Regions from separate parts of the Homo sapiens genome. Here region 2 is linked to region 1. The links come from fine-mapping of genetic effects on plasma protein levels. A gene starts in region 1. The other region holds a variant in brackets. All regions are shown on one strand. Distances are between the middles of the regions.

The links. A credible set is the group of variants that fine-mapping cannot tell apart. PIP is the chance, under the fine-mapping model, that this variant and not a neighbour inherited with it causes the effect. The UK Biobank Pharma Proteomics Project read protein levels with antibody pairs (Olink). The fine-mapping took linkage between variants from a reference panel, not from the people measured, so its PIPs are less certain.
Region 2: its variant is the best candidate, but not a certain one, in a credible set for the plasma level of the CD5L protein (UK Biobank, PIP 0.57).

What each region holds. Positions count from the first base shown.
Region 1 is chr1:157,840,569-157,843,487 of GRCh38, forward strand. It overlaps CD5L (CD5 molecule like), which reads right to left and starts at 1,240. Exons shown (of 6, transcript NM_005894.3): 1 at 1,106-1,240. The coding sequence starts at 1,133.
Region 2 is chr1:157,830,585-157,833,503 of GRCh38, forward strand. It overlaps CD5L (CD5 molecule like), which reads right to left. Exons shown (of 6, transcript NM_005894.3): 5 at 2,608-2,919; 6 at 327-1,384. The coding sequence ends at 1,380. Among named protein-coding and RNA genes, the nearest start is that of CD5L, 9.8 kb to the right of the region's middle. The variant T/A (reference allele first, on the strand shown) is at 1,204.

The DNA of each region.
Region 1 (2,919 bases):
GCCTTTTCTGCAACTATCCAAAACTCAAGGTTATATTATACATATGGGAATCATTGCATAACCCCAACCCAACATGTGTACATGTGAAGGAAAGTGAGCATGGCAAGCCTGATATGCAGGTGCAAACGTGATATAGCCAGTAAGTGACTTGGAAGCTCTGCAGTAGGGTGGGTAACTGCAGAAGGCACAGGCCAGAAAGGCTTCATGAAGCAGGTGGAAGTGCACATGAGCCTGGAAGACCCAGTAGTATATCCATGAGGGGCAGGACTAGCCGTTGAGTGATGTGGGGGATGCATGGATGTTTAAGATGTGGTCAGTACCTTACATTGAACACAAAAGTGTCCAGTTGAGAGGATTGTGTGGGCTTTGGTGATGTACTAGATCATCAAGACATAAAAGTGGATGTGATTGATTAGCATAGGGATTTACCAGGCATTGTTAGATGCTTTATATTAGTTATCTTATAAAAAAAAATACTCCTAAAAACCTCTGAGGAACATAATATTATCCTCACTTCATAGATGAGAGAGCAAAATTTCAGAGAGGTATGGTAACCTACGAATTCACACCGCTAAGAAATCAAAACGGCAGGATTGAAATCCAGGTCTCCTTGGCTCCACAATCACCAGATTAACTAGGTTAATCTCTAGATTACTCTAAGCAATGAGAAACTGAAGAAAACTAGAAAAACATTATATGAAACACTTTTCAGAGGAAACCAGACAATATGATCAATGAAAGGTGATTGTCTTGCAGTTCTACTTCCTTTCCTGGCTCTACTTGCTGCTGCCCGGTGCCCATTCATTTGTCTTCTTACTAATAGTACATTTAGGAACACTTATGTAAAAAGAGAAATGGGATAAACTATCATGACTCTGTCATTACAAATATAAGAAAATAGAAAAAAATCTGTTAAAGTGAATTACAAATGTGTATGGATTAAGCGGCTTTTTAAGGATTAGAATAGTTACCAAATGTAAAAAGGAGGAAGAAGCTCATCCTTGAAAAACATCTAAATCTGTTCCAGGTTGGCGGGGAGAAAGTTCTCCTAATCAAAGTGCCAGAAAACTCTGAAGCCTAAACCAACAGGTGCAGAGATACTCACCAAGGATCAAGGAGAATAGCAGAGCCATGACCAAGGCAGGTGAAGGTGATGAGCTGAAATTTAAGGCTAGAAGGAGGTCCCCAAGCAGCAATATTTAGTTTTAGCTGCAAGTATGTTAAGAGGAGGGACAAAGACAGGTCCTGAGTGCAGGCAAAGCATTATCAGATGATCAGAAACCAATAGACTCGGGGGGCAGAGCTGACAGAGCTGGACTTGCTGAAATCAGCATGTTCCAGAGGAAAGGAGGTGGCCAGAACTGGCGGAAAAATGCTGAAAACAAAATAGAAACAGGCTATCATGACTTGGTTCTGCTGTAAGTCCAGCTCCGTCTGTCTCTCCTACAGCCCCTTTGCTATGTAAACAGAGGAAACACCTCCCACAAGGAAAGGCAGGTGCCAAAAATATGGCCATCTCTCAGTAGAAGACAAGGCAGTACTTAGTCGCCAAGGATGGTTTGCAAGGGAAATAAGCCAATTTTGATTCCTTTACCCCAGAGGGAAGTGCCTAGAAAATTTGGAAGCCAGAGGCCATGGGATAAATGCAGAGTTGCCCTTGGAGGCATATCCCATAAAACATAATCCAGGGTCATGGTGCCAATCTCCACATACAGGCCTGGCTTTATTGTCTTCAAACCTGCTTTCTCACTGCTAAGCAGAGGGTCCAATATACAGATTTGTTATTTTTCTATGCTTGTGCTGGTGTATGCCCATCTTTGGAAGCTGGATGGAAACAGATCCCTGAGGTGAGGGGCATCATAATCATTGAACTCAAGTTGTCTGTAGGTCTAAGACATGATGGACAGAGATTAAGCAGTAAGACCCTCTCAGGCCCCTCTGCTTTGCTATATTATTAAGTATAGCTATGCTTCATGAGCTATTCTACTCCAGATTGATCAAGCAATCAATTTTGTATGCTGACATAATCTCTGCATTCCAAGCAGGGTAATTGTTCCTCTACAGTAATAATTTTTGCTTCTTTGTAATATTCAGGTAACTCAGCAGAAAGCTTGGTTCATTGTAGGCATTCATTTTTAATCCCACATTTCTTCATTTACTTAGTATTGTATTCAATGAAAAGTTTTTAGCACTCATGAATGCCAGGCAATGTGATGGGTGGAGGCAGTACATGAAGGAACAAGGGATAGTTTTGCACTGTAAAAATATATGGTCTAGTAATTGCAATAACATGTGGAAACCACTGTTAAGAGAGAAAAGTATAACAAACTTTGGAGGCCAGGCGAGGTGGCTCATATCTGTAATCCCAGCACTTTGGGAGGCCGAACTGGGAGGATAGCTTGAGCCCAGGAGTTTGAGGCTGCAGTGAACTATGATCAGGCCACTGAACCTCAGCCTGAGTGACAGAGTGAGATCACATCTCTAAAATAAGAAAAAGAAATGAAACCTTGGAGGAAATGGTTACTATGTTTGGAGCTAATCAGAGAAGACTTCACAGCAATGATGATACTTGAGCAGGGGTTTAGGATGAGTTAAGTGGAGAATCAGAATAGGAAAAGATTTTGCTATGCATATGCAGACAAGTGAAACAGCATTACTTATTCAAGGAACCACAGGTAGTTTGGAATGACTGGATTACAGCCTGCTTAGTGATCAGGGGCCAGGGCTTCTTGATGTTGAAAGGTAAAGACACTAGATGATATGCAAGTAGCAACAAGAGCCAGATAATGGAGGGTATATCATGAATGAGTTTGTAAATGCTAACTATTCACATCCTTCCCTCTCTAGATTCTGAAGTGACACAGTAATAGGTACAGAATTCAGAAAAGGTTCAAAATATCATCTTTACTGTTGATGAAC
Region 2 (2,919 bases), 10 kb before region 1:
AGACCAGTGTGGTTCTGGGTTAGAAACATAAACACACTGGTTAGAAGGAAAGCAAAAAAATGTCAGATTAGAAAGGCATGGCATTAGAGTTGGCCTATCAGAAGTGTGTTAGCCTGAAGTCCAGGAGCAGCAGAACTGTCTTTGGGTACACAGGTTGGAGCAGAAATAGACTGGGAGACAGTTGCACACCCAGAGGACAGCTTTTTACACATATGGTTGTAACTGGAAGGTTCTCTTCTACCTAACCCTGTTTAAGAAACTGCCATAGAGAATCTGACACAGCTGCTTCTCTGTGGGCAGAAAGAGCATATCACACAGAGAGGCAATTGTTGAGACTGTGAAATCTGATTTATTAGATAAGTGTAAATGTGTAAATGTAGCCGTATAATAAGTACTCAGCCTAGCCTCAGAATCTAAAGTTGTCAATTTTTACAATCAAGTCTTGATTCTCTTATTTCTGTCTTGCCTCAAGCTTACAGGCCCCAAAGTCTCAGTTGATAAAGTGAAAATGATATTTTTCACTTTCGCTTGGCATAAGACACAACTTTAGCCCTCCCTGATCTCTTTCTGCCTCTTTCTTGACCTTTTCCCAGTAACCAATATATTTTTCTTTGAATAAAGTAAAATGTATTTTTGACATTCCTCTCATTAAATGTCAACCATGTTGGCAGGTTGTATAGGGATGGACAACAAAGATTTTTATTGGGGCAATCAGAGGATGAAACATCATTTTTTACACGTCATGAAAAGGTCTAGGATTATAGGACGCTGCTCTGCTCCTGAAAGAATTGTCTACCTACACTAAGAAATAACAGAATAGGGAGGTGTTGCTATTGTGGTCACCTGAAGCTTGAGGAAAAAAAAAAAAAGTAGTCCAATCAAAAGAATTCTAAACTTTCCCCCAAGTTGCAAGAAATTGTCTACCCACATTTTCTTTCAAATGTTCCTTTCATTGTTTCATTCCTTTAATGTTTGCAGACATAGATTAGTAATAGGACCTAGATTAGTAATGTTTGCAGACATAGACCTTAGTAATGGTCTGCACATCTGACCAAAGTGACAGGTTTGAGGATTCCAGGCAGCTTGAGAAAAGGCAGGAAAGGCCAGAACCAGTGTCAAAGGGTCAGGGTTGAGCACAGGATACATGGAAGCTCATCTTCCCCAGCAAGAGGGAACTCAACAGCTCACATCTACAGGCAGCAA[T/A]GGGGGCTGCTTGTCCCTGAGAGTAAGGCATAAGCCCAGTGTTCAGACTCCTGAGGGGATGAGGGAGTAGTGGCTCAAGCCTGAGCCCCAGAATGAGTATGAGGATAATCAGGGCTCAGGAGAACAAGCAGAGGGCAGGCGGGGCCAGGGGGGCCAGGTCAAGCAACACCAGGATACTATCCTATAAAGAGAAGAGGAAAATGCAGTAAGGATGGGTATAGTCCAGGAAGGAATTATTCAGTTGAAACTCACATTAGCTAAGGGAGAAGACTGGGGCTCAACATAGGAAAAAGAGCTAAGCCATGTACAGATCCCACACTGATGTGAGCCAGGCCAGAACCTTGTGCAGTATCCCAGGGACTTACTCAACTAGCTCCATGTGAGTCACAAACAGTACTGACATCTATCAACATATCTTATCCTCACACAATCACAAAGTCTTTGAGGTAAACCGGACAAGTGTCTTTCTATTTCTACCCATGGAAACACTTAGGTTCTGAGGAGTTAAGTGACTAACATTACACAGCTTCAAAGTAGCAGCAGCCTGGCTCAAACCCTAGCCTCCTGCAGCTGTATTTATTCTTCTCTGGGCACTAACTGCTTCCCACATACCTTGGTCAACTATCAGTTCTTATCTAGTTCCAGAGTTAGTGGTTTAACCAAGTAGCCCCACATTGATTACACAATGGGGCTTCAGACGGGTGGCTTTTTTGAGTCAGCCACGCAGCGGCTGCACTTGCATTTTCTAACCCAAATTGGGAAAGGGCTTCTTCCTTCAATCCTCTGAAGAGTTCTACAGTTCAGGGCTGGTATTGTGGTCTCTCTGATAACTCTCTTATGGGCATTCTCAAAAAGCTCCCTACTGTAGTCCCACTCTCCCAGACTAGTTTAAAATCTAGGAGTGATGACAAATGGAATGAGGTAGAACCCTCTTTGATAGTTTAACTTAGAGTTTCAAGGTTAGGGTCATCCAAGAGAATAACCTTGGGTTGAGAGTAAAGATGGTTTATTATGGTTCTGCTATATGATTTGAAAGCAATTTTAATGCTTTTGAAGGTTGCTTATTTTCTCCGACTCTCACTTTATGTTTACTATGTTTAATATAAAAATGTTGGTGAAATAATTTTCAGAACGCCTCTTGTTTTTACATTCAATACCTGTATGTTCTCACGATCAATACGTATATAGTGTCAGCCCTACCTCTACCCACCAGCCCCAGGAATAAAACCTACCACAGGGCCTGGACTTCCAGCCATATCCCTGGAAGTACAGAGCAGGTGATGACTATGAGCAGCTTCATGGCGCTTGTGAAAATACCCTTTTCCCCAGAGTACACCCCCATCATTTCCTCTTCCTTTATCATCCTCCTTGCCAGCCCTTATGAACTCCATCTGTAGGACTCACCTGAGCAGATGACAGCCACATCTTCCTGGTGGGTGCAGTCGTGAAACCCCCAAAATCTGTGCTGGCACTGCTCCAGGGACTGCTCCTCCCCTGAGCAACGAACATTATCCAGCCAGATGCGGCCAACCCCAGGGCCATAGCATTTCCGGTCTCTGAAGGAGGGAGAGAGGGACTTCCCACAGCCCAGTTGCTTGCATACCACCTGGTCCTCCTTTTCTCCCCAGTTGTCATCACAGACAGAGCCCCATACGCCCTTGTGCAGCACCTCCAGTCGCCCAGAGCAGAGGTTGTCTCCTCCTACTAGTCTCAAGT